4 separate regions of the Homo sapiens genome follow, and regions 2, 3 and 4 are each reported to be linked to region 1. The links are microRNA targets in miRTarBase. Many come from high-throughput screens and were not tested one by one. Region 1 holds a microRNA gene; each other region holds the end of a gene's coding sequence.

The links. The annotated mature microRNA hsa-miR-152-3p reads UCAGUGCAUGACAGAACUUGG and lies in region 1 at 2,051-2,071, opposite strand. An mRNA with a match to its seed (bases 2 to 7 or 8) in the 3' UTR can be bound and repressed. Matches are read on the target gene's strand: a 7mer-m8 pairs with bases 2 to 8, a 7mer-A1 pairs with bases 2 to 7 and ends in A, and an 8mer does both.
Region 2: miRTarBase lists IL23R as a target of hsa-miR-152-3p. Seed matches in the 3' UTR shown: 8mer at 2,865-2,872.
Region 3: the mRNA of HS6ST2 is a reported target of hsa-miR-152-3p. The part of its 3' UTR that is shown has no 7-base or 8-base seed match.
Region 4: miRTarBase lists OBI1 as a target of hsa-miR-152-3p. Seed matches in the 3' UTR shown: 8mer at 5,469-5,476.

What each region holds. Positions count from the first base shown.
Region 1 is chr17:48,035,124-48,042,312 of GRCh38, forward strand. It overlaps MIR152 (microRNA 152), which reads right to left and starts at 2,124; the gene lies at 2,038-2,124. COPZ2 (coat protein complex I subunit zeta 2) reads right to left here and starts at 2,674. Exons shown (of 9, transcript NM_016429.4): 1 at 2,544-2,674; 2 at 1,728-1,802. The coding sequence starts at 2,654. RefSeq lists an enhancer at 3,791-3,840.
Region 2 is chr1:67,258,774-67,262,773 of GRCh38, reverse strand. It overlaps IL23R (interleukin 23 receptor), which reads right to left. Exons shown (of 11, transcript NM_144701.3): 11 at 2,795-4,000. The coding sequence ends at 3,646. Among named protein-coding and RNA genes, the nearest start is that of IL12RB2, 47 kb to the left of the region's middle.
Region 3 is chrX:132,622,395-132,631,034 of GRCh38, reverse strand. HS6ST2 (heparan sulfate 6-O-sulfotransferase 2) reads left to right here. Exons shown (of 5, transcript NM_001394073.1): 5 at 1,942-5,020. The coding sequence ends at 2,812. Among named protein-coding and RNA genes, the nearest start is that of HS6ST2-AS1, 41 kb to the left of the region's middle.
Region 4 is chr13:78,612,093-78,619,850 of GRCh38, reverse strand. It overlaps OBI1 (ORC ubiquitin ligase 1), which reads left to right. Exons shown (of 6, transcript NM_024546.4): 6 at 2,729-5,562. The coding sequence ends at 4,271. OBI1-AS1 (OBI1 antisense RNA 1) reads right to left here. Exons shown (of 6, transcript NR_047001.1): 6 at 2,526-4,176. Among named protein-coding and RNA genes, the nearest start is that of POU4F1, 12 kb to the right of the region's middle.

The DNA.
Region 1 (7,189 bases):
ATCCCATAACTAAATTAATGTTTTTTGTTTGGGAATGGTGAGCCTCTCTCTCTGACTCAGTTTCTTAATCTGTAGGGAGGAAAAGCCTTTGGCCTTGCTGATCCACCTCTGACCATCTGCTGGGGCAAGGTGTGGTCAGCTCAGTTTTCAATTTTCTGGATGTGGATTTTGCCACTTAATACTCAATCCGCAGGCAGATTAGCCATCTCCCTAGTGGCCGCTGCTTATTTGAATTTCATAAAAACAAAAAACTTTCAGTTCCAAATAAACAAACAGAAAATCTATTTTTTGGGATGGGGTCTCACTCTATAACCCAGATTGGAGTGCAGTAGCTCGATCATGGCTCACTGCAGCCTCAACCTCTCGGGCTCAGGCAATCCTCCCACTTCAGCCTCCCGAGTAGGTGGGACTACAGGCACACACCACCACGCCCGGCTAATTTTCGTTTTTTTGTTTTTTGTTTTTGTTTTGTTTTGTTTTTTGTAGAGATGGGGTGTGCCATGTTGCCCAGGCTGGTCTGGCACTCCTGGGCTCAAGCAGTCCACCCGCCTCGGCCTCCCAAAGTACTGGGATTACAGGCATCAGCCACTGCGCCTGGCCTTACAACACATTTCTTTTCTTTTTCTTTTCTTTTTTTTTTTTTTTTTGAGACAGAGTTTCGCTCTTGTTGCCCAGGCTGGAGTGCAATGGTGTGATCTCGGCTCACTGCAACCTCTGCCTCCCAGGTTCAAGCAATTCTCCTGCCTCAGCCTCTCGAGTAGCTGGGATTACAGGCGCCCACCACCATGCCTGGCTAATTCTTTGTATTTTTAGTAGAGACAGGGTTTCACCATGTTGTCCAGGCTGGTTTCGAACTCCTGACCTCAAGTGATCTGCCCGCCTTGGCCTCCCAAAGTGCTGGGATTACAGGCATGAGCCATCACACCTGGCCTTATAATGCATTTCATAGCTAATGCAGATGCTATAGCTCCCCTACAATTAATTGTGTTGACAGCAGAAATTTATTTTTGGATTATTTTAGTTTGGTTCGCTCAGGCCATGTTTGCTAGGATAGATAACAGCTAATTGAATGGGGGTACAGTGAAAACCACCTTGAGCTTCATGTCAAAAAACCCGAGTTTGCCTGTGAAACCTGTGAAATGGGAGAAGTGAAAAAATTAAATAAGTAAATAAATAAAATTTGAGTTTGGATCTGTTAGGATATTAATACTTGTGACCTCAGGCAACTCACTTAGCTTCTCTACCCCTCATTTTCTTCATCTACGAAATTAAAGAGTTGGATTATACAGTTTCTAAAATCCCATCTGGTTCTAAATCCTTAGACTCCTTAGACTAAATCGTTAGTGTTTACCAAGCTGTAGAACAAAAGTGGAGGTTTAGAGACAAACCCCAAAGAACAAAAGAACTTGTGTGGGGGTTTGGGGACTAAGACTCCTGGGTCCCAGGCTCAACACTCCACTGACCCATTAGGCAGAACCTTCCCATGCCCAGGTCCAACTGGCCAGTAGCAGGATGATAAGGAAACATTTCAGGGAACATGAGTAGAAATAGAGGAGACCCCTCATTTCAGGGAGCAGCACCTTGACAAGGCAGGAGGATGAGAAGGACCTCTGGAGGGGTCTAAGCTGAGCTGCCCTGAGTCACAGAGATCACAGTGGAGTTTCTCCTGAGACAGGAGTGTCAGCTGAGTGGGAACTGTGTCCCTCATGGGTGGGGTCAGAGGTTACCTTGGCCAGCAGCCGGCGCCCGTCATTATCTAGGATGAAAACAGCCTTGATGGTGTAGAGGGAAGGTTCCTGCAACTGACACCGGAGAGGAGAGTTCCGTTTGGCCCCTGACTCGAGGTGGACACCCTGTGTCTATGGGATCTGCTGGCCCTAGGATACATCCTCAGGCCCCAGCAACCCCAGTCCTCAAGGTCCACAGCTGGTTCTGCCCAGCCCTGTGCCACATGGGCCAACCCAGGTGCCCACTCCACTCCCAGGCAGATGTTCCACTGCAGGCCCCGAGTGGGCGCTGTGCCCGTTGGGTGCAGAAGGTCCTTCCGGGCCCAAGTTCTGTCATGCACTGACTGCTCCAGAGCCCGAGTCGGAGTGTATCACAGAACCTGGGCCGGGGGGGACAGCGGGCCGAGCCTCCTTCTTCCAGCTGATCCCTGGCCGGGCTGGACCTGCGCTATCAGCGCGCCCCCAGGCCCTGGCCCGGGTAGACTCCAGAAGCATGCCCATCACCCACCGGTGATGGGAGCCGAGTCTGGGACGGACAGGCCACTCCTTACCCTCCCCGCGGAATCGCAACTCACCCGCCACCCCCACTCCAAACGGACCCAGAACTTCAGCCCCGCGCCGACGGACTCAGGACAGGCCTCCTCTCCGGTCGGCGCTGGGACGAACTTTTCCTCCCGGGTCCTGGGGCCAGTCAGGGGTGACACAAAGTTCCCAGCCGCCGGGCGCGCGAGTTCTGAGTTGGCTGCTCCCCCTAACCCTGCTCTGTCCCTGCCCAGCTCCCGCCGCCCGGGATCCCCGCGCCCGCCCGCTCCGTACCCGCAGCCCCGAGGGCTCCCCGGCTCGAGCAGGCGGCGCCGGGCCCCCGGCCTGGGCCGCCGCGGCCCCCTCCCCCGGGTGCGGACGTGGCCAGGCCTCGGGCCGCTGCATTCCGCTCGCCGCCTCGCACTGACAGCGCCGCCCGCCGCCTGCCCGCCGCCGCCGCCCCGCCTCCGCGCCGCCCCGCGGCCCCCTCTCGCGCGTGGCCTCCCTTTCCTCGGGGCCCCGTCCTCTTGCTCGTTCTCCCCCATCTCCCCTCCCGCCCTCACCCCACCTCTCCTTCCCCCACTTCTCCTCTCCCTCTCTCCTCCTTGGCTCCTTCCCGAGTCCCTTACATCCCCGAACTCTGCATCCTCAGGGTGCCCCAAGACCAGCCCTCGTCCTGCTTCCTGCCTGCTCTCCGGCCTGTGGCTTTGGTGTGCGCCAGTGTCTATAGGCTGTCCTGGGGCCAGCAGCAAACACAAGCAAAGCCCACTTTTGTCTGTTGACCTCTGGTAGGTACCATGAGGACAAATACGTCAGGTCACCCTTTAGATCTCAGGGACAGGGTCTATAAGCAAGAGCAAATGAGGACAGTTCTGGGGACACCCCTCTGTGAAGAGGCTTTCTCATTCCTCTCTCACTACTTGCAGAAGGCAACCATGGGCCCGGAGACACCTCCCCAGGCTCTCCTAAGTCACAGATATGGCACCATCAGAAGCAAGACAGACGCCCAGCAGCACAAATGCTCCACCAATGACATCGGGCTTTGCAGCATGTTTTGGTTTCTTTGGTCTAAGTCTAACTAAGACAAGCTCTCATTTCAGGGTACACTGGCAAGTGGGAAATTCACATCCCAGTGATATGTTAGTGCTACGTATGCATTTACCGGTAAAAACACTGTGCGTGTATTTTACATTTGACACCTTCACATCCATTATCTAATATAGCCCACACCTGTAAGATAGGCATAATGGACCCTCATTTTAAGCAAAGAGAGACTCAGAGGTTGTGTGACCTTTTCAAGACTATACAGCTAGTTGACTGGGGATAGAACCCAGATTTTTGACTCAAAATTTCTTCCCTATTCTTCTCTTCAAGCCCTCTTATGTTGTGGACCACAGTCACTTACCCTAGATGGTTACAGAATGGGGTTTTCCTCACTGAATGCATCAAGTCTTCTTATCTTCAAGCCTCTGCTGAAATATAATTACCAAAAGGTCCTCCTGACAGCCACCATATCTGACTTGATAGGTCTCTCCTGTCACATTCTCTCAGTTCCTATTTCTTTCTTTCATTGCACTTTTTTCAATCTCTAAATATTATTTTTACTAATATTGCTTGTTTGAGACACGGTCTCACTCTGTTGCCCAGGCTGGAGTGCAGTGACTCGATCTGGGCTCACTGCAGCCTCAACCTCCTGGGCTCAGGCAATCCTCCCATCTCAGTCTCCCGAGTAGCTGGGACCACTGGTGCATGCAACCACTCCCAGGTAATTTTTTATTTTTTTATTTTTTTTATTTTTGTAGAAACAAGGTCTCAAGTCTGGGCTCAATGGCTCACATCTGTAATCCCAGCACTTTGGGAGGCTGAGGTGGGCAGAAGGCTTGAGCCCAGGAGTTCCAGACCAGCCTGGGCAACATGGTAAGATCTAGTCTCTACTAAAACTACAAAGAAATTAGCCAGGTAGGGTGGTGTGACCTGTAGTCCCAGCTACTCAGAAGGCTGAGGTGGGAGAATCACCCGAGTCTGGGGGTTCAAGGCTGCAGAGCCATGATCATGCCACTGTGCTCCAGCCTGGGCAATGGGAGTGAGAATCTGTTTCAAAAAAAAAAAAAAGAAGAAGAAGAAGAAGAGAAAAAGAAAGGAAGAGGAGGAGGAGGGGGAGGAGGGTGATCATGATCAAGGTCTCACTATGTTGCCCAGGCTGGTCTTGAACGCCTAGGCTCAAGTGATCCTCCCACCTCAGCCTCCCAAAGTGTTGGGATACAGGCGTGAACCACCATTCCCAGCCTTTACTAGTTTGTTTATAAGTGTTCCTTCTCCCCGCCCAGACTTTGAGCCCTGCAAGAACCAATGAATGTGACTTTTTGTTTGTTTGTTTTTTTGTTTTGAGACAGGGTCTTGCTCTATCACCCAGGCTGGAGTACAGTGGTGTGATCATAGTTCACCGCAGCCTCAAATTCCCAGTGTCGGCCGGGCACGGTGGCTCACGCCTGTAATTCCAGCTCTTTGGAAGGCCGAGACAGGCGGATCACGAGGTCAGGAGTTTGAGACCAGCCTGGCCAACATGGTGAAACCCCATCTCTACTAAAAATACAAAAAAATTAGCCGGGGGTGGTGGCAGGTGCCTGTAATCCCAGCTACTCGGGAGGCTGAGGCAGGAGAATCACTTGAACCTGGGAGGTGGAGGTTGCAGTGACCCGAGACCGCACTACAGCACTCCAGCCTGGCCAAGAGAGCGAGAACCTGCTACCCACCCACCCACCCACACACACACACACACACAAACAACTCCCAGGATCAAGCCATTCTCCTGTCTCAGTCTCCTGAGTAGGTGGGACGATACACACGTGCCACCATGCCTGGTTATTTATTATTATTTTTTTTAAAGGCAGGGTCTTGCTGTGTTGTCCAGGCAGGTCTTGAACTCCTGGGATCAAGCCCTCCTCCTGCCTCGGCCTCCCAAAGCCCTGAGATTACAGGTGTGACCCACCTCACCTGGCCAATTATGTTTGTCTTGTTCACTGTGGAATCCCTAGTGTTTCTTACAAGGCTTGGTGACAGATTTTTTTTTTTTTTTTTTGAGACGGAGTCTTGCTCCGTCACCAGGCTGGAGTGCAGTGGCGAGATCTCGGCTCACTGCAACCTCCGCCTCACGGGTTCCAGTGATTCTCCTGCCTCAGCCTCCCGAGTAGTTGGGACTACAGGTGCACACCACCACGCCCAGCTAATTTTTGTATTTTTAGTAGAGACAGGGTTTCACCATGTTGGCCAGGATGGTCTCGATCTCTTGACCTTGTGATCTGCTTGCCTCGGCCTCCCAAAGTGCTGGGATTACAGGCATGAGCCACTGCACCTGGCCGATGACAGATATTTAATAAGCATTTGTGAAGTAAATGAATAAAGGAATTCAGGATGAGGGAGATCATGTATAAATATTCACAAATACCAAATTTTAACTAATAATAATTAAAATGTACCTATCAATGATACCATATTGGCTGGGTGTGGTGGCTCATACCTGTAATCCCAGCACTTTGAGAGGCCAAGGCGGGCAGATCACTTGAGACCAGGAGTTCGAGACCAGCCTGGCCAACATGGTGAAACCCTGATTCTACTAAAAACACACAAAAATCAGCCAGGCATGGTGGCGAGTGCCTGTAGTCCCAGCTACTTGGGAGGTGAAGGCAGGAGAATCATTTGCACCCAGGAGGCAGAGGCTGTAGTGAGCCAAGATCACACCACTGCAGCCTCAGCAACAGAGCAAGACTCTATCTCCAAAAAAAAAAAAAAAAAAAAGACAACATATTTTATGTGCTGTACAAATATTTATTGAGTGCTTAGTATGTACCAGATATTTTTCTAGCCACTGGGACACAATAGTAGACAAAAGAAAAATTTTGCTCTCATGGAACTTACAATCAAGTGTTTGTGTATGTACATGCGTGCGTTTCTGTGCAAGATATAATACACAAATAAATGGGAAAAGTAGATATTATATGAGTTGGGGATAAGTGCTGCAAAGAAAAATAGAGCAGAAATGGGATGTGGAATGTGAGGGGTAAGGGACAGGCAAGCCAGAAAGCCATTTTCATAGTCCTCTGAGAAAACCTTTAACAAGGTGACATTTGAACAAAGAGCTAAAGGAAAGGAGGAAGCAGGCCATGCAGACATCTGAGGAAGCATCTACTGACCCTCCCTATATGATGACTTAGAAGGCACATCTGAACCTTTCTTGCAGGCTATCAGTTATAATAGGGAACATAATGACACTATTTGATAACAGCAGCCAGGGAAAAGACCCAGCATTTGGGCATTTTATTTCTTCGGATTCCAGATCATCAGAAGTTATGTCAATGGTCATGCTGGCTGGGTATGTTATTTCTAAAAAATACTGATTTGGTTATTTTGATGTCTTAATATTTCTGTGAGCTAGTCCATTTTTTTTTTTTTTTTGGCTCATATTTACAAGGACAGCACCAAAAAGCCTCCAGGAGCATTTCTCAGCCTCTGTTTGGCTATGGTACCCACTATGAAAGACCAGCAGCCTCCAGAAGGGACAGAGGAAGACCTGGGAAGATAGGGGACTTAGGGGGCTGGCTCCATAGGGGAGGTGGGGAAGGAGTCAGTTATACACGTTAGGGATGGGAAGGCACTGGAGAGGGGCCAAGGGGATAGGAATGAGAGAAGGCTGGGGAAGGAAGCTTAGGAACCACAAAGTTCTCATCACCCCCACATCTATCACTGTTGTTGCTTTTTCTTTTTCTTTTTTTCTTTTTTTTGAGAAGGAGTTTCACTCTTGTTGCCCAGGCTGGAGTGCAATGGGGTGATATTGGCTCACTGCAATCTCCGCCTCCCAGGTTCAGGCGATTCTCCTGTCTCAGTCTCCTGAGTAGCTGGGATTACAGGTATGCGCCACCACACCCAGCTAATTTTTTTTATTT
Region 2 (4,000 bases), not on the chromosome of region 1:
CATGCCCCTTTAGGAATCAGCGACTTAAAAGATTGTGAGACTCAGAGAAAGAAAGTTAATAATAGACACAAGAGCTAGATAGAAAGATGAATAGGTATGCACTTGTCCTCAGAATCTGCAGAAAATTCTGGCTTAAGAAGGTTAAGATGGGAGGTGGGGAGTGGTCAGGGTGGAAGATAATCAGTGGCAAGTTGTACGGGAGGGAAAGAAGTAAAGACATTAGCCACTCAAGGCTTTCTCTATAGAAGGATTTGTCAGTGGCAAGCTGGCTCTTACCTGAGACTCAGATGAACATCAGTATCACTTCCTGGGAGTGGTCTTTCCTGACCACCCAGTGTAAAGTGGCCACCGATTTGCTATCCACCACATTATCCCATTTTACCTCTCTAGACAGCACTTATTATCTGACATTTTCCTTTATTTTTTTCTGCCTCTCTCCACCCCCTACCTCTGGCCTCTTCCCCTACTAAAATGTAAGCTCCTTGGGGGCAATGACTTGTCCTAATTTACTGTCTGTCTCTTCCCCCTAGGATATAAGCCCCAAGCCTGCAGGGATTGACTGGTTTTGTTAAATCCATATCCTTCAAATGGCCTTGCACATATAACAGTAAGGACATTCAGTAGTTCAATGAATCCTTCTTGAATACAAGAATTATAGAAAGAAACCCTTTCTCCCCCGCGAAGTTTGCATTGTGATAAAGCAGCTTGAATTTTTCCCCTGAGTTGGGACAAAGGCAGGTACATTGCTCCCATTGCAGGTATAGCCTCAATTTCTAGTCCATTGGGACCAACAAGGGCTAATGGCAAAGACAGAATCAGAAGTGTCTCCTTTGTGCTGAATAGTGATGTGGGTTAAGACACCACAGAATGAGAAAGCAGCTTCCTTCCCACTCTAGGGGGCGAAAAGGAGGCACTCGCTGCAGTGGAAACATTTGCAGAAGATCAAACAATGCTGTAATCCTTTAAGCTTGATAAAAGCTTTTTTCATGTGTGATAGATTACAATTATGGTGAAACGTACTATAAAAATATTCTTCACATGTTACCAGACGTCTTCATCAGGTTTGCAAACATCAAAGATTTATCTTAGTCTTTTGTTATTTCAATCTCAAATGCTACCTCCTTCTTGGCTACTTTATGATTCTCCTTTTGCAAAAGAATCAAGCAAAGGCATACGGCAATTTACAAGTCAAGGTATTTAAGATTAGCATTTCATTAGTGATTTAAAATATATTCCTTTCAGAATATGCAAAGTACAAAAAATATATACATATTTTAGGATAAACAGAATAGAGTTTATCTGGGGGATAACTTTTTTTTTTTTTTACACTATGTAAAAGTATCAGGGGATACTTTTTTTTACAGTATGAATAGTAATACCCTTTTGGAGCAAAATGGCCTTAGTAAATGATAAAAAGTAAAATAAAGAGGATTGTCAGTGCAAAAAAAAAAAAAAAGATAAATTTCTGATGAATTACTTACATGCTGGACATTAAGTAGTCTTGAGTGACCATATGATTTATTATCCAAATAAGGGATGCTTCTGAGAGTGAATGAGGGCAGTTATTGGTCATAATTAACAATAGGACAATGGACAGAAACCAGGGCAAACTGGGATATACAGTCAACCTCATTTCAAGGATACTTAATGACCATAAAATTGCTTTTAGATTTTTATCAAAAAAAAAAAAAGTAAAACAAAATAGCCTGCTCATTTGCTAAAGACATAGTAAGCAATGAGTCTTTTTAAAATTAACTGCTTGATTTTTCATAATAAAATTAAATGACTAAATATGAGTATAAATTGACAACTGTTGGAGGAGAAAAAGAAATTCAGTGTGTAATCTACCTATTTTAATGAATGAATGAACGAATATTTATTTATTTTTTAGAGACGGGGTCTTGCTCTGGCACATGATCATTGATCATAGCGCACTGCAGTGTCTAACTCTTGGGCTCAAGTGTTCCTTCCGCCTCAGCCTCCTGAGTAGCTAGGACTATAGGCATGAATTTACATGCCCTACTCTACCCTATTTTAAACTGTTCTGATCATTCAGAAAAGTTGTCCTTGCCCATAAATATTAATCACAATAGTCTGCTGGGTAACATTTCTCAGCTTAAAATATGTATTTCATTTTTAAAGATCAACCACTTTTCCATATTGACATCATTGGTAGATAGATTTAATCTCCTACTCCAGTCCTTATGGATTGTGGCCATAAGGAACACTGCTTGGGAGGCTTCTGAGGGCACTTGTACAGCTCAGTAGAAAGGCCTGTTCTGATTGGCTGGTGATATCTGCAGGAGACATGGGATATGGGGCAATGGTAGGTTCAGCAAGTATTTGCCATCAAAACAGGTACTGAACAGATACCTGTTTTAACAATAATTTTCTAACATATATCTGGTTTGTAAACAAAAAATTACGTCTTGCTGATCCTGCATCTGTTACCTCTCATAGGTTCTATTATAGTATAAATAATATCCCAACTATGCCACAGGAAAACAAGGCCATCACTCTTGACTTAAGTGAAGACAGCAACCCATGATTCCACACATTATTGTTTCACAGCGCTGTTAGTCCCAAATCACACTAAGATCAAATCCCTAATACCTGGAGAGTAGGGGAAAAAAATAATACAGCAAACGACTAACTTCTCTTCTGTTTCTATTCTTCACTTATTTTGTCATTTGGGGCTATATTTTTATCTACTCAAGAGAATTTTAAGTGATAAAATGAAAATTAAACTTGCCTCTCCCTTTGCAAGCAAGTATTAGTTATTCTTTTTTTTTTTTTTTTTTTTTTTTTCCAGACAGAGTTTTGCTCTTGTTGCCCAGGCTGGAGTGCAGTGGCACAATCTCAGCTCAGTGCAACCTCTGCCTTCCTGGTTCAAGTGATTCTCCTGCCTCAGCCTCCCAAGTAGCTGGGATTACAAGCACCTGCCACCATGGCCGGCTAATTTTTGTAATTTTAGTAGAGACAGGGTTTCAGCATATTGGCCAGGCTGGACTCGAACTCCTGACCTCAGGTGATCCACCTACCTCAGCCTACCAAAGTGCTGGGATTACAAGCATGAGCCACCACGCCTGGCCTAATGATTCTATTTTAAAGGAAAATTTTCAGCATTTATTTTACTACCAGGTATTTTGCATTATTTACCCTTTCTGTACACAATAGAGAGCTGTTTTGCATCTTTCAATGAGGGAAAATAAAGAGGAAATAGTTGACTCTATAAAAAATACATGAGGCGTCCACATAATGCTGTTTTTGTGCCTGTATGTGTGACCATGAAGCATGTTCCACCTTCGGGACCTTAATTCTCTAATTTTAAGAAATGAGGCAGAAGAATGGCTAAAATTAAAAAGGCATGGAGCTCCCGGGAATTCTTACATGGTGATGGTAGGAGCACAGAAATGTCACTACTCTGGAAACAAGATTGGTAGAACTGAAACATATGCTTATCATATGGCCCAGCAATCCCCTACCTAGGTATTTATCCAAGGGAAATGAAAACATGTGTCCATGTGAAGATTTGTATGTGAATACATTTTTTTCAAAAAGAGGCAGAATTCAATTTCTATTGCAGGGAAAACCCAAGTTCAGATTGCAAGGCAGCTTTCTCATATTGATTTTGACCACACAGCTCTACTTTTCCAAGAGTGAAATCCTATTGAAGTGGCTTTCCAAAATATTTTGTGGAAAATAAGTATTAATAGATGGCAACTCCTCATTCACGATCCCCAAACAGGAGACAAATTCATCAGGAAGCAGGGTCTGTTCTGGAATAGTTTCACTGGGTGAATCATTTTCCAAAAGCATGGTGGTTTCCTCCTCTACTGAGTTTTGTATGTCAGGAGAACTGCATTCTCCTTGATTTAATATGAGGCTTAATTCTCCAAGAAATATTGTGTTGCTTAGTGAATTCACACTTGAAACAGAAAAAGCAAAATTAGGATGCTTTTGTAACCTGGGATTATTTCCTGAGTCTAAGGAATCAACT
Region 3 (8,640 bases), not on the chromosome of region 1:
CCCTGTCCTTGAAAACATAGTTTAAGTGGAAATATAAACAATTAATTGTAATTCAGTATCACACATTTTTGGGGGAGGCAGTGGGGTGGAGGGGTAGGGTCTCACTCTATTGCTCAGGCTGAAATGCAGTGGCACAACCACAGCTCACTGCAACCTCCGTCTCCTGGGTTCAAGTGATTCTCGTGCCTCAGCCTCCTGAGTAGCTAGGATTACGGGAGCGCACAACCACACCTGGCTAATTTTTGTATTTTTAACAGATGGGGTTTCACCGTGTTGTCCAGGCTGGTCTCAAACTCCTTACCTCAAGCAACCCACCCACCTCAGCCTCCCAAACTGCTGGGATTACAGGCATGAGCCACCGTGCCCAGCCCCAGTATCACAAATATTTTAACAAAGGCTAAGTATAGAAGTGCTATGGCAACACAGAGGAAGAAATGATAACTGGCAACACAGAGTGGGGTACATTTTTTCACAAAAGAGATGGTACTTGAACTGGTATTGAAGGATGAGTAGAATTTTCCAGCCAAAGAGGGAAGATCATGGCAGGCAGAGCAAGCACCATGTACAGGATAGAGGCATAGGAGATAGATTTCAGGATGCCTGAGGTGATGGAAGCCCCAGTTGGGAGAAACGTTTCCTCAATGAACATCAGCCAATATTCAGTTAAGCAGGTGGCTGAGCAGGTTCCCTGTGGCTCCTCATGTATGTGTAGAGAACAACCACTCCCTCAGATGGGAATGAATATTTCAGAAAAGTTGCAAGCCATTCTCCGGGTTTCCTTTAAGAAGCTAAATGCTAATATTCAATGTTTATTGTTGCTTTCTTTCCACAATATGCCCTTCTGTGGCCTCGTCCTTCATCTTCTGTACCTGAGTGGTAACCCATTTCTCATGAAAAGCACAATGACACGGTTCTCTCCTTAAGTATGCCTGATTGTATCATGGACTTGATGTTTCTGGGGCGTGTGCCTACCATGTATGGTGTGAGTGTGTTAACATGTGGTTTAAATGTTTGCTAGTCTGCTATTTGAGCAAAGAACTTTGTTTGAAGCCCTAAAGAGAAGACAGCCATACAGCAAAGCCTCCACACTTGCTGACATCCACGTGCCCTTTTAGTAGATAAGGAAAAGGGACATTTTGAAGCTGCTGATAGAGTTAAGTTTCCTATCCTGGGAATATTATCATAGGAGCAAAGGTGGAAACCAAGGTAGTAGCTTGCATACATGCCATTGGCAGCTACCATGTCTATTTCAGTCAGTGACTAACCACAGCGTTTATTGCTGGAGGCCCTGGGCTACTCTGCCTATCTCTACATTCCACTTCCATAATGTATGAGCCATAATATGACAACAGCCAGAATCAAGAGTATCATATCATACACTCTTTTAATGAGTTTTTTAAAAACAAAAAGATATGCAGATTAGACTGGATATTAGAAAAAATGCTATTGCATATTTAATAAGATTCGAATTTGAACCCACTTGTCAACTCCATTTCACTCCAATAAAGTATGTGCTTCCAATGAGTCTCCATTTCATGATCACTAAATGGTTTAGAGTGGGGGGCATGAAATAAAGTGGTTGCCTAGTTAGCCAATGGTGTCATTGGGAAGATTTTGTCTTTGGTTAGAGAGGGAGAAAAAGAGGGGAAGGGGGAACGAACGGGAGTGAAGCATGACAAGGTCAATGTCTGGAATCTAACCTTTTCATACCTGTTTTAGCTGAAGTATCAGCAAATTGGTTGAAAAAATTAGCTATCTCTAGGCTAGTGAGACTCAGAGAGGGGACTGCAGTACAGTTTACAGGACAAATGCCATCAGATCCCTGTCATTTTTGCTTTGCCTTCCTTTTTAGCCAGTGAACACCACATATGCCATGTACCTCCATGACTCCACTTATTTCGCCCATATCTCTGACTGTTGGTTTTTGTGCTTCATCCATAGGAACTTCCACTACATCACCATCCTCCGAGACCCAGTGTCCCGGTACTTGAGTGAGTGGAGGCATGTCCAGAGAGGGGCAACATGGAAAGCATCCCTGCATGTCTGCGATGGAAGGCCTCCAACCTCCGAAGAGCTGCCCAGCTGCTACACTGGCGATGACTGGTCTGGCTGCCCCCTCAAAGAGTTTATGGACTGTCCCTACAATCTAGCCAACAACCGCCAGGTGCGCATGCTCTCCGACCTGACCCTGGTAGGCTGCTACAACCTCTCTGTCATGCCTGAAAAGCAAAGAAACAAGGTCCTTCTGGAAAGTGCCAAGTCAAATCTGAAGCACATGGCGTTCTTCGGCCTCACTGAGTTTCAGCGGAAGACCCAATATCTGTTTGAGAAAACCTTCAACATGAACTTTATTTCGCCATTTACCCAGTATAATACCACTAGGGCCTCTAGTGTAGAGATCAATGAGGAAATTCAAAAGCGTATTGAGGGACTGAATTTTCTGGATATGGAGTTGTACAGCTATGCCAAAGACCTTTTTTTGCAGAGGTATCAGTTTATGAGGCAGAAAGAGCATCAGGAGGCCAGGCGAAAGCGTCAGGAACAACGCAAATTTCTGAAGGGAAGGCTCCTTCAGACCCATTTCCAGAGCCAGGGTCAGGGCCAGAGCCAGAATCCGAATCAGAATCAGAGTCAGAACCCAAATCCGAATGCCAATCAGAACCTGACTCAGAATCTGATGCAGAATCTGACTCAGAGTTTGAGCCAGAAGGAGAACCGGGAAAGCCCGAAGCAGAACTCAGGCAAGGAGCAGAATGATAACACCAGCAATGGCACCAACGACTACATAGGCAGTGTAGAGAAATGGCGTTAAATGGCTCAAAAAGGCCTGTACATACTTCTCCCAAAGCGCCACTGAAAAGATGGCATAGCTTAAAAGATGAAAGTGTCCAAACACATCCTGCTTCCTTCATTGGGGAAGTTTTAAAAAAAAGTTTAGATGTTGCCTTTACAGTTGCCTTTCAATTCAGTGTTATACTGTGTGTAGGTAAAACAAATCTCAATATGGAATTAAATTGTCTTTTTGGGGTTGGACTAAATATGAAATCCGAAAGCCAAACCAGACTCACCAGAAATTGCTGTTTAGATATTTTAAGAAGTTCTTAAATTAGTTATGGAGACAAAGTGAAAACATAAAATGTGACCATTTAACTTATGGCTAAGAAATGGACTTTAAATTATTCATGATACACTGTTAAAACCCAATCTTGGAATCAAATATTTTTTCCAGGGGTGAGAATAAGTATAAACATAAAGCAACTAAAATGAAACATAAAACCTTTTATTTTCTTCTGATTTTAACAAGGAATCTATTTAAATAGAATAACAACTGATGGTGAATCTTACCGAGCTGTAGAAAATAAAAAATTCCTCTCCAAACATGGGTAGTTTTATGTCAAAATATTGGCTTTTCAAGAACAGGACTCATATCTTGATATTTAAGAGATGTTTAAAATTTTAAACTTTTTCTACCTTCTACTGTTTAAAGGTTTTACACAGGGTGTATCTCACATTAAACAAAACACCTTTTTTTCAAAATGAAATACCAATGTAAAGATCTAATTTCCAGGCGCTTTCAGGGCACTGTAATTTCAACAATACTGGAATCATTTTGGCGCTGCTTCTCATTCATTTTAAGGCTTCTCTGAATTGTGCTCATTCCAAATTAACCCATGTATAGAATCTTTCTTCATCATCTAAATGGTGTGTTGCTGAAGTTATTGTGGTATATAATCCTGGATTAAAGTCAGGACTTTCTTTCTATAGAATTATTTTATCAATATTTGTGTAGTGAGGTCCTAATCAAGAAACTTGAACAGGATAATGTGTCTAAAAATATTGCTGAAGTTATTCTTGATCAGATAGAATTTAACCTAAAATGTGAACTCTTACTTACTTTTTGTACATCTCTATTGTAATGTTTCCAGTTGGGCCAACTATTTCTAGCCCTTTAGTTCTTTTTCATGTTGACAGATTTGTAGACAATTACAAAAGCCAAAAAAGGATAAAATAAGCATTAGGAAGGCTAGCCAGTTATTCAATAGCACCTTGATAATGTGGGCAAACCCTTCTACAAAGTTTTTGTTTTGAAAAGAGCAAAAGTAAAAAGTGTTCTGTAGTGAGGTTACATATCAGGAACATATGAGTTGAGCAGAGTAATTTGGTAGTGTAAGTCGATGCAAAAATACTTCTATGGTACCTATTACAAGCTGACCAAGATAAAAAGAAGTATGTAACCCACTGTGCTGTCAAGCATCATGATTCCGGGCAGTTTTCATTTTACTGTGGATTTTGCTATACTTATGCAAGGACTTACACTAACCTCCTGGCTGTAAATCAAACAAGGTGACTGAAAGTGGCATTTATGTTTTCACAAGGGACATGCTTAGAAGTGTGACCATAAAGTCACATCTTGTACAATCTGCTCATGTGTTTCATCTGTAGTAATATAGCCACAAACTGGACAAGAAGCTGGGTATTTGGGTTTAAAATAGATTTTCTTGACTCTGAGCTTGTATCAGTATTTCTAGCTTTTGTTTTGTCTGACAGTATTGCAGTCTTGAAAATCCTGAGAGCTAAAAAACTGAAAGGAATTTTTCCACACCTTGAAGTCACAGTGTTTTAGAGTAAAACTATTTTGTGTACAATTGTGTTTTTAAAATAGTTAGTAGATCACTATGGTATTTCAATTTTCTTTAGTTTTAATTGAAAATGTTTGCTTTTAAAACTGATAGGTATTGTTGGAAAGCAGGATGAAGCCTGAGCCAGTGGAAAAGCTTGTTACAGAAAAAACATTTTGTGTTATTGCTGTGGTGTGCATGATTTGCAAAGATTAAGTGCATTTTCTCTGTCTATACTGATTATTGTATATAGAGGATGTTATAAATATACATATACATTTTTGCCATTATGTAAATCCCATGATTTCAACTGTAAACATCTGTCCATTGGTGTAGCTTTACAAACCATTCACTGATTTTGTGTAATTTAACAATAGATATGAAATAAAGTTTAAATTACAGGCTCTGAGTAATCTCATAATTTCAAGATTTGCAGCTGCTAGACATTGTGATCTCACAAACCAGAACAGAATTTTTTTCAACAAGACATTTCCTTTTATCCTCTTGGCAGCCAGGTATGAAAATTAGATGGCCCATTCTAATCCCTCACACTAAAATGGCCTTAATTTGGGGTGATTCCTTCTGGGAGTCCATGTTTTTTGTACAAGCGTGTCCAACCCACAATGGTGCTCTTCATTCTCCCTTCTATCCACAGGGTAGAGTTTAAATGTAAGCATTAATGTATTGGTTTTTAAAGTCCCAAACACAAAATGTGCACATTTTTTCAAACAAACTCTTATAGTTAGCACTATGGGGGAGTGGGGTATGATTTGTCCTTGCGCTTTTCCAAAGAGACTTTAAATGTCAGTCCCAAGGGGTTAGAGGAAGAAAGCTACAAATTTGGTTGGAGATGTAGTTAAGTAGCCTTAGCCTGTAAACTATTCATATGTATTGTATAAGTCCATTTTCATACTGCTATAAAGAACTGCCTGAGACTGGGTAATTTATAAAGGAAAGAGGTTTAATTGACTCACAGTTCTGCATGGTTGAGGAGGCCTCAGGAAACTCACAATCATGGCAGAAAGTGAAGGAAAAGCAAGGCATCTTCTTCACAAGGTGGCAGGAAGGAGAAGTGCTGAGTGAAGGGGGAAGAGCCCCTTATAAAACCATCAGATCTCGTGAGAACTCACTATCACAAGAACAGCAAAGGGGAAACCACCCTCATGATTCAATCACCTCCACCTGGTCTCTCCCTTGACACATGGGGATTATGGGGATTACAATTCAAGATGAGATTTGGGTGGGGACAAAAAGTCTAACCATATCAGCTTACATGGTTTTGCCTGTCAACTGCTTCTTGATCAATATTTGGGCTGCCAAAGGGCCTGATTGTATAAAGATCCTACACCCCCTTGGGAGGATCTGTGAACAGGAACATAAAGTCCAAGAACTTGAAATATTTCAGAAATAAAGTTTGGTTCCCTTTTCCCCTGAGGAGGGTAGGTACTCATGGAGAGCAGGGCGCTCTAACTGTAGTGGAGAAAAGATAGGAAACCTGCTAAGGAAATGAGCTATTGAGGCAGCCCAGGGAGGAGCTAAAATGAAGAAACAACGAATTGGCTCGGTTCCTCAGGACTTAATTAGGATTCTCAATAGGGGTGATAACCAAGTACAACCAGAACTACCTTTGGGTGATGGGTCTAATAAAGCTGTCACAATGGGAAGGATGGTTTCCTTCCATGGGTGGAGTACGGGGGTAAAAAGAAGCATAAAACTTGCATGCTGGGTCTGAGTCACAGAAGAGAACCACAGAATATTCCAGGTTGGCGATGTGCAACCCACAGCTTTCTTGCATTCATTGACCTGAAGACACTGCTTTTGACACTGAAAGTTGGGAAAGGGGAGACAGCATATTCCTTTTGCACAAATGGCCATCAGAGGTGGACTGGAAGTTTCTTCTCTCTTGTCTTCTCTAGAGATTGAACCAAGCAAAGAAACAAAAGCCGAGTACTTTGTAGAAAGTTCTAGCAAAAACACAGAGTATGCTGACTCTGAAAGTAACCCTCTGGGACTGTGGAATAAGGCAACTCAAATCTCTCACTTGGCAAGAATGAGGCCGCCTGACAGTTTTAAGTGTCCAAGGAATTTGATCAACACCTCACAATTTCCAAGGTACATCCCTCAGACCTTCACAAATGGGCAAAGCCCTCAGAACTTCAGGAGAAAACTATCCTGAAAACAAAGCAAATGAGCTGTTTCTCAGTACAAATGGCACTGTTCTGAGCAGCTAGAGCAGGGTCCAAAAACTACTGTCCTGGGGCCAAATGCAGCCCTCTGCCTGCTTTTGTAAATATAGTATTATTGGAACACAGCACGCCCATTTCTTTGCATATTTTCCCTGGCTGCTCTCATGCAACAGTGGCAGGAGTCGTTGCAACAGAGATCTTATGGCCCCAAAAGCCTAAAATACTTATTTTCTTGCCCCCCAAAGAAAAAGTTGGTCAGCCCTGGAACGAGAGAGCAGATCAAAATTTCCTAAGTATTGAAAACTTGGCGGAGTTTATAATGACCCCAGAGTCTGAGAGAATAAAAGGATGTGATTCAAACAACATACTTTCCAATACCATATCACCACAAACAACATTTACTGAGTACCTACTATGTGAGAGTCACTGCTTTTAGGCCTGAAAGCACGGGAGAACCTGGTCTTTTCTCTCAGGATTGCAGAAATCCCAGCCACATGCTGTGTCAGTAATTATAGGTGAGAGCTTAATTAGTTCTTCATTAGTCTTACATAGCTGATGCCTGCCAGTTCCTTGGAGTGTGTGCGTGTGTGTATGTGTTTTATCACATGCTTTTAAAAATTAAAACAATATATAAGTATGTAAAGTAAAAAGTGAAATTACCTATACAACTCCCACTTCCCCAAAATAACTACTGTGATTATGATTTCCTCCAGACCTCCTTGTCCTAGCCACATTCAAATCTGCTATCTCTCCCCCTCCCCCTTCCCTCCTGCTCTTCCTCCAACCCAACCGCACACACAAACACATATATTTATTTAAAAGGATAAAACCATATTGTTCTCATTGTTACCTGATTTCTTTTTTTTTTTATGAAAAAGTTCAGCAGTGTATCATGGATTCCCTTCCAAAACAGGAATATAGTGGATGGTTTATCCCAACAAAATTGATTACTGCTGATGTTATAGGTTGAGAGTATAGACTCTATATGCATGCTGCCTGGGTTTGAATCCCAGCTCCACCATTTACCAGCTCTGTGACCTTGAGAAAGTCTCTAACCTCTCCATGCCTCAGTTTCTTCACCTATAAATGGAGAAAATAAAAGCTGTAACTTCAGAGAGTTGTTGTGAGGATTAAATGAGTTAGTATCTGTAAAGCACTTAACACTGTGCCTGATATAGAATAAACTTTACTTTTCATTTTTATTTTTTTAGAGACAGACTCTCACTCTGTCACTGAGGTCAGAGTGCAGTGGTGTGATCATAGTTCATAGCAGCCTCAACCTCTTGAGCTCAACTGATCCTTCAGCCTCAGCCTCTCGAGTAGCTGGGACTACAGGTGCACGCTACCACTGCCAGCTAATTTTTTACAATTTTAGTAGAGATAAGGTCTCATTATGTTGCCCAGGCTGATCTGGAACTCCTGAGCTCAATCCTCCCACCATGGCCTCCCAAAGTTCCGAGATTACAGGCATGATAAAATAAACTTTATATGTGTTTGATAGTATTATAATAATCATTATTACTGTTATTAGCATAAGGACTAGATGTCTGCTGAATTCCTATATCTTCAGTAGCTAAAGACTGACTCTGAGATCAAGAATTAAAAATATTTGCAAGAAAAAGAGTATATTTCCTGTTGTGACTAATTTAAGGAAACCTTTCTAAAAAATAAAACAAATGTGTTTCAAATGTAACATAATCAAATGTATAAAGACTTATCTTAAAGTTTACTTCTGAGCTTCGAATGCAGCCAGTGACAGAAACATTCTGAAAGATGTAACCCACAAAATGCCAAGTGAGTCACAGATTCTCTCTCCAGCAATGAAAAGGCATTAT
Region 4 (7,758 bases), not on the chromosome of region 1:
AAGGCACTAGTGTATCTTAAAGTAAGAGAATGACTTTTATTCAAGAAATACACAACAGGCAAGTGCCGTATACCAGGAATTGTTCTAGGAATCTGGCAGTGAATATAAGACAAACTACCTGCTCTCCTTGAGCTTCTATTCTAACGTGGGAGAAAGAAAGCAAATAAATTACATGAATTGATTAATTGATCAGTTGCATGGCTTTTAGTATACATTTCTGTCAGTCTGCCAACCAGCACAGGTCCCTTATTAGCATGGGAGAAGGGCCTGATCACTGAAAGTATTATAGATTTATAGAGTATTGAAAGGAAACTTAAGGAAATTGGGGGCAGTGGCCTTTTAGAAAACAGCCTAACTCCATCAGTGACTTCTGCTTGCTTGTGCCTCTCATATGTGATCTGCTACTGGCCTTTGTTACTTCTCTCTGAAATAACACAAAAATTATGTTTAGGGCTCTCATTGACTTCAACTCCAAACCATATGTTACTTCTTTTAAAAACATAATTTCTAAAAAAAAAAAATATATAGAGAGAGAGAGGCAAATACAGTATCTTAAGATGATACTATATTTGAAATTCCAAGCTAAAACCCTGGAACAAGAAGCTGGTAATATTTTGGGAAGCATTCTTTATTTTTGAGTAGTCTTTCTGTGTGTAGGCCTCTAAGTTCCCAAAGATATCCTTTGGTAGCAACTGACTTACTATGTAGTAGCATTATTTGATTTTAAGTCATTTGATTTTTTTATCTGAGGAGATACCTTTATTATAAAAAATTTTACTTGAAGAAATTTATCTTGATAAGCAAATGTAAGGCTGTCACTTTTGCTTATTGGCATTAAATAAACATACTACAGTTTTTCCATTTAAAAATGTGGGTTATTTGATTATGCCAGAGTAGTTACAATCAAGAACTAACAAACATTTGTACTTAATGTACTGAAAGGTCTTTGCCCACTTTTTAAAAGTTCTCTTGCAGAACTACAACTCTGTGAAGTACTACATTTATAAGCCAAAACATTTTTAACAAAGAAGAAAAATTCCCATCATTCATTTAACCAAATACAGTAGTAAACTTTGTCTTTAAAATGGGGAGGCTTGTTATTATAGTTGCTTTTGTTTTTGTTATACCTGTGGTTTTTGCTGTGTTTTTTTAGAAGTTGAAGGGAGCGTGCTCTCTCTGGGGGTTCAGTTAATTGCAGTGAGTAAATCAATATTCAGCAATCATGTCTTTTAAAGCCCTTTCTAATCTTGAGATTTTATGATTCTATATTTACCTTTGCCTCTGCTTTTTCCTTCAGTGATAAGAGTGCAGGGATTATGTAGGGGTTGAGATGGGGAATGAATTGGGCTAGTGGTTTAGGAGGTGATGGGCATTAAGTGGGAGTTGAAAACATGTTGTGGTTGATTCTAAGAGGGGCAATTGCTATTGGCTTCTGCTTTTTTTGTAGTTTTTTTTTTCAATACTAAATACATGTTCTTAATTGTAATTATTTTTCAAATTAGGGGAAAAAAGGAAGAAAAAGATAAACCCAAAGATAAAAATAATTTTTGAAAGTCACCTTCTCATAGCTTCCTCCAAACAGACAATCCCTTAATTCTTAGAAATGGGCCAATATATAAATCATCAAAAAGATGATTAAGAATAGGCTTTGAAAAGAATTTTGGAGGAGATAAGGTATTTTTCACGGGATTATGTTATTTATTGGCTCATAAGTTTCCTGAAAGATAGAATTTATTTTTGGTGATAAGATTGAATTTAAGGTAGATATTTTATGTCCCTTGGAGCTAGACAGTCTTTTTTATCTTTTGTGTTCCCAGCCCCAAATATACCACCTAACCTATACTAGGTACTCAAAAATTGTTTCCTGAGCTTAACACAGTACTCATTCTTGGTGGAAATAACAGCAAGATAATCCCGGTGTAAAAGGAGTAGACTTTTTGTGAATAAGGGAATTCTTTTTCAGTCACTCTCCAAAATGTTCTCTTTCAGAAAGTGTACAAAAAAATTTTTTTTTTTGCCTAGTATATTGGAATCACAAGCACTGACTTCATATTTCAAAGTTGAAAGAAATGAGATAGATGTCCCACACAGCTGTAAAATGCCAAAAATAAGTAGTGCTGACATAAATTAAAGGCCAGTGCTCTGAAAAGCCACAGAAAAGCTTCAGATCAAGGGTGGCTATAATTGAAAGGGCCCAAATAAGTATTTAAAACCACCCCTCCTGGGACTGCTAAGATTTCTGAATTTCAAATTGGCATTTTATGTTTGACAAGGTGACATTATATAAGAAATGTATTGTAAAACACTGCTGTATGATAGGAAAATGATTGAATGTAAATATTTCAAGATGTAGACCACTGTTCAAATGTTATCATAAATCTTTGCCATTGTTTTAGGGGATAACTCTTCATGCATATATGAGCTGAATTGATACAGCCAGCTCTTCGAGGGGAAATCATCAGCACATTTCTGCCTCTCTGCTACCATAGATCTGATTTAACCACAAAAATATCCTATTAGGTTTTGCTATTATTATCATATGTTTATTATTATGTAAGTGGGGAAACCATTTTTTGAAAATATACATCTGGCATTTGCCCTACTCATTGAGTGGTCTGAAATGTCACTGTTAGGTGAAATTAGAATAGCCTGGGACAGTTTGCACTCTCAAACCTTGAAAAGAAAAAAGCTTGAGTTATAAGATTAACTATCTTTCCATTCTTTGTAGGTTTGGAAGGTTTGCAGTTGCTGCTCTTCAGTCCAAAGTAGAACAGTATGAGCGTGAAACCAATCGCCTCAAGAAAGCCCTGGAACGAAGTGATAAGTATATAGAGGAACTAGAATCTCAAGTTGCACAGCTAAAAAATTCAAGTGAAGAGAAAGAAGCTATGAATTCCATTTGCCAGACAGCACTTTCTGCAGATGGCAAAGGGAGCAAAGGCAGTGAGGAGGATGTGGTGTCAAAGAATCAAGGCGATAGTGCCAGAAAGCAGCCTGGCTCATCCACCTCCAGTTCTTCTCACCTAGCGAAGCCTTCCAGCAGCAGACTGTGTGACACCAGTTCTGCAAGGCAGGAAAGTACCAGCAAAGCAGACCTTAACTGTTCTAAGAACAAAGACCTATATCAAGAACAGGTAGAAGTAATGTTAGATGTGACAGATACAAGTATGGATACTTATTTGGAAAGAGAATGGGGGAATAAACCAAGTGACTGTGTACCCTACAAAGATGAAGAACTTTATGATCTTCCAGCTCCTTGTACTCCTTTGTCCCTTAGTTGCCTTCAGCTCAGTACTCCAGAAAATAGAGAGAGCTCTGTGGTCCAAGCAGGAGGTTCCAAAAAGCACTCAAACCATCTCAGAAAATTGGTGTTTGATGATTTTTGTGATTCTTCAAATGTTTCTAATAAAGATTCTTCAGAAGATGATATAAGTAGAAGTGAAAATGAAAAGAAATCAGAATGTTTTTCTTCCCCAAAGACAGGATTTTGGGACTGTTGTTCCACAAGCTATGCCCAAAACTTAGATTTTGAAAGTTCAGAGGGGAACACGATAGCAAATTCTGTTGGAGAAATATCTTCAAAATTGAGTGAGAAATCAGGCTTATGTTTATCCAAAAGGTTGAATTCTATTCGCTCTTTTGAAATGAACCGGACAAGAACATCCAGTGAAGCATCGATGGATGCTGCTTACCTTGACAAAATCTCTGAGTTGGATTCAATGATGTCAGAGTCAGACAACAGCAAGAGCCCTTGTAATAACGGTTTTAAGTCACTGGATTTGGATGGGTTATCAAAGTCATCTCAAGGCAGTGAATTTCTTGAGGAACCTGATAAGTTGGAAGAAAAAACTGAGCTAAACCTTTCCAAAGGTTCTCTAACTAATGATCAGTTAGAAAATGGAAGTGAATGGAAACCCACTTCTTTTTTTCTCCTCTCTCCATCTGACCAAGAAATGAATGAAGATTTTTCACTCCATTCCAGTTCTTGTCCAGTAACTAATGAAATCAAACCCCCAAGCTGCTTGTTTCAGACAGAGTTTTCCCAGGGCATTTTGTTAAGCAGTTCACATCGACTATTTGAAGATCAAAGATTTGGGTCATCTTTGTTTAAGATGTCCTCAGAGATGCACAGTCTTCATAACCACCTTCAGTCTCCTTGGTCTACTTCCTTTGTGCCTGAAAAGAGGAATAAAAATGTGAATCAATCAACAAAAAGAAAAATCCAGAGCAGCCTTTCCAGTGCCAGCCCATCAAAAGCAACTAAAAGTTGACTCATTAGAAAGGTGTCATTTGTGGTTTTGTCCTGAGAGAAATAGAAAAGTTGTTAAAGTTACCTTTTTTCCTCATAAAAGTTCTATACAAATTGGAATTGATAATCTTTAGTCAAGTATCAAGTCAGGATGGTGGATTAACCTGTACCCAGAATACTTATTGTTCATTTTGAAAAGACTTTGTTCTTTTCATTTTTATTTGGGAGTCTTTGTGACCAGAGAAGTTAGGGAGGAGGTTATTTTTGTGTTTTGGGGTTGGTTGGTTGGTTGGTTTTGTTTTTGGTTTTGTTTTTTTACTGAATTTGATATGTATCTCGGTTGGATATACATTGTTTTTTTAAAAAATGTTATTTAACTGTTAGATACAGTGGCCTGTTGATAAGCCCCACTTGTCTTCAGAACTTGGATTTCTTAAATAAAACTTTTAGTGTTGTCTATACACTGCTCAATAAGACACTTGAGTTTAAGCTTTTCCCAGGGTGGAAATTATTTTACCTGTCCCTTTTTATTTATGTTTAGTGATGGCCTAGTTTTTCTGCAGGGCCATGATGGAGAAATAGCACTCTAGCCTTAGTCCAATATTGATTTACTTTCTTTTTTTAGGTTTTATGTATATGTTTGCATTTTTTAGCATTGTGTTTTGTCCAGTTTTGTGAAAATGTTCTGCTAGTATGAAAGAAAACATTTTCTATATGAAGACATTTGTTTTATGTTAGGTAGCTTACATTTTCTCCTCTGCGTGTGTGTGTATGTGTGTAAAATCAGAAATTTAGCATACTATGGAAAGAAGGCATGGAGCACTTGGGTTTAGAGGAACCTAAAACATCATAGCTTCATTGTTCCAGATGTAACAGGTTTGAAAGAGCTCATCGCCAAGTTCTTGATCCACTTGCATTCCAGGGGAGTTTTCTTTTGAGTAGTATGTTTCTTGTTTGCATGTTCCTGTTCTTTGTGGAAACTATGCATGGTAGCATTTTTGCTTGCTGTGTTTTCCATACTTAAGAAAAAGAGGTTTCAGTTGGCTGATAGAATATCTTTTATGTAGGACAAAACTTTTCTGTGAAGAGTGTTGAGGGGGTGAAGATAGGTAAGAGGTAAGCACAATTTTTAATTTAGGCTCTGAAAAAGTGTATTGTTCTAAACGTATTTGGTATGCCTATATAGGTCTTTAAAAATGGGTATGTATGCTGTTTAATGTGCACTGAACATTTTACATTAATATTGTACTGTTTTACATTAATACTGCATGCTTTTCTATGTGAATTGAATAAAGAATGTCATAAGCACTGTGTTCCTTGATGTCGATGATGATTCTTTGTCTCGTATATTGAATTAGCCTATAAAGACCAGGAAAAACTACTTTTTTTTTTTTTTGAGACGGAGTCTCAATCTTGTCGCCTAGGCTGGAGTGCAGTGGCGCGATCTCTGCTCACTGCAACCTCTGCCTCTCAGGTTCAAGCAATTCTCCTGCCTCAGCCTCCTGAGTAGCTGGGATTACAGGCACCTGCCACCACACCCAGCTAATCTTTGTACTTTACTAATAGAGACAGGGTTTCGCCATGTTGGCCAGGTTGGTCTCGAACTCCTGACCTCAGGTGATTCTCCTTCCTTGGCTTCCCAAAGTGCTGGGATTACAAAAAACTACCATTTCTTAATTGATTTTATAATACATTGAAAAACTATGGTTCATGGACCAAATCTGGTCTGCGGCTATTTCCCAGGCTGGAGTGCAGTGGTACAGTTATGGCCCACTGCAGCCTCGGGTGGGCTGGGCTCAAGCCATCCTCCCCACTCAGTCTCCCACAGATCTGGGACTACAGGCATGCACCATGTCAGGCTGATTTTTTAGTTTTTGCAGAGACAGCGTCTCATTATGTTGCCCAGGCTGGTACTGAATTCCCAGGCCCAAGTGATCCTCCTGCCTCAGCCTCCAAAAGTGCTGAGCCACCACACCTGGCCAATCATAAAATTCAGTTTTATGCATTTTAATCTTTTTTAAAAATCTCCCTTGAAAGGCCTGTGAGCAAAAAATGGAATTTACAGTTGTAGAAGGTTTTTAAAAATCCATAGATTATTGCATAACACAGGAAAATTATATTAAAGTCACATTTCATTGTTTCTAAATAAAGTTACTTGAACACAGTTACACTCATTTGTTTACATATTACCTACAACATCTAAAATATTTACTATCTGGTCTTTTACAAAAAAGTTTGCCGACCCTTGTTATAATAGACTGAGGATTCAATGAAACCATAAAAGTGACAATTCACATTTGTAATTTGAAGAATCATGTCCTCCACTTATAGAAGTAATAGCCAGAGGCCGGCGCTGTGGCTCATGCCTATAATCCAAGCACTTTGGGAGGCGGAGGCGGGCCGATCACCTGAGGTCGGAAGTTCGAGACCAGCCTGACCAACACGGAGAAACCCCCATCTACTAAAAATACAAAATTAGCCAGGCATGGTGGCACATGACTGTAATCCTAGTTACTTGGGAGGCTGAGACAGGAGAATCGCTTGAACCCAGGAGGCGGAGGTTGCGGTGAGCCGAGATAATGCCACTGCGCTCCAGTCTGGGCAACAGGAGCAAAACTCTGTCTCAAAAAAAAAAAAAAAAAAAAAAAAAAGCCAGAAAGAGCTAATTTAAAGCAGAATTTTGTTTTATGTTACATATTTTCCAATCATTTTTCTGATATGTTAAAGCTAATGGATACATTCAGAGCTATTGGCACTTTAAATGTCTTTGATAATATGACTACACGTTAGAAACTCAAATATAGAAATTAAAATTTTTCTGCCACAGGTTAAATTTAGGGGTGGTATGATCTAAATCTGTGTTCCTCCAAATTCACATGTTGTAACACCCAAGGTAATAGTACTAAGAGGTGGGGCCTTTGGTAGGTGATTAGGTCATGAGGGCTTTGCTTTCTCTGAATGGGATTAGTGCCCTTATAAAAAAGGCCTGGGTGCCAGGCACAGTGACTCAACGCCTGAAATCCCAGCATTTTGGGATGCCGTGGCAGGCGGATCACGAGGTCAGGAGATCGAGACCGTCCTGGCTAACACAGTGAAATGCCATCTCTACTAAAAATACAAAAAATTAGCTGGGCGTGGTGGCGGACGCCTGTAATCTCAGCTACTTGGGAGGCTGAGGCAGGAGAATGGCTCCAACCCAGGAGGCGGAGGTTGCAGTGAGCCGAGATCGCACCACTGCACTCCAGCCTGGGTGACAGAGCAAGGTTGCAAAAAAAAAAAAAAAAAAAAATGCCTGGGGTAGTTTCCTTGCTTCTTCCGCCATGTGAGGAGGACACAGCTAGAAGGTAGCATCTTTGAAGCAGATACTGAGACCTCACCAGAATCTGCTGGTGCCTTGATCTTGGACCTCCCAGAACAATGAGAAATAAAATTGTATTGTTTAAAAATTAGTCCAAAACATTTCATCATGGCAGTACAGATGGATGAAGACAAGGGGTAAGCCTCATTGT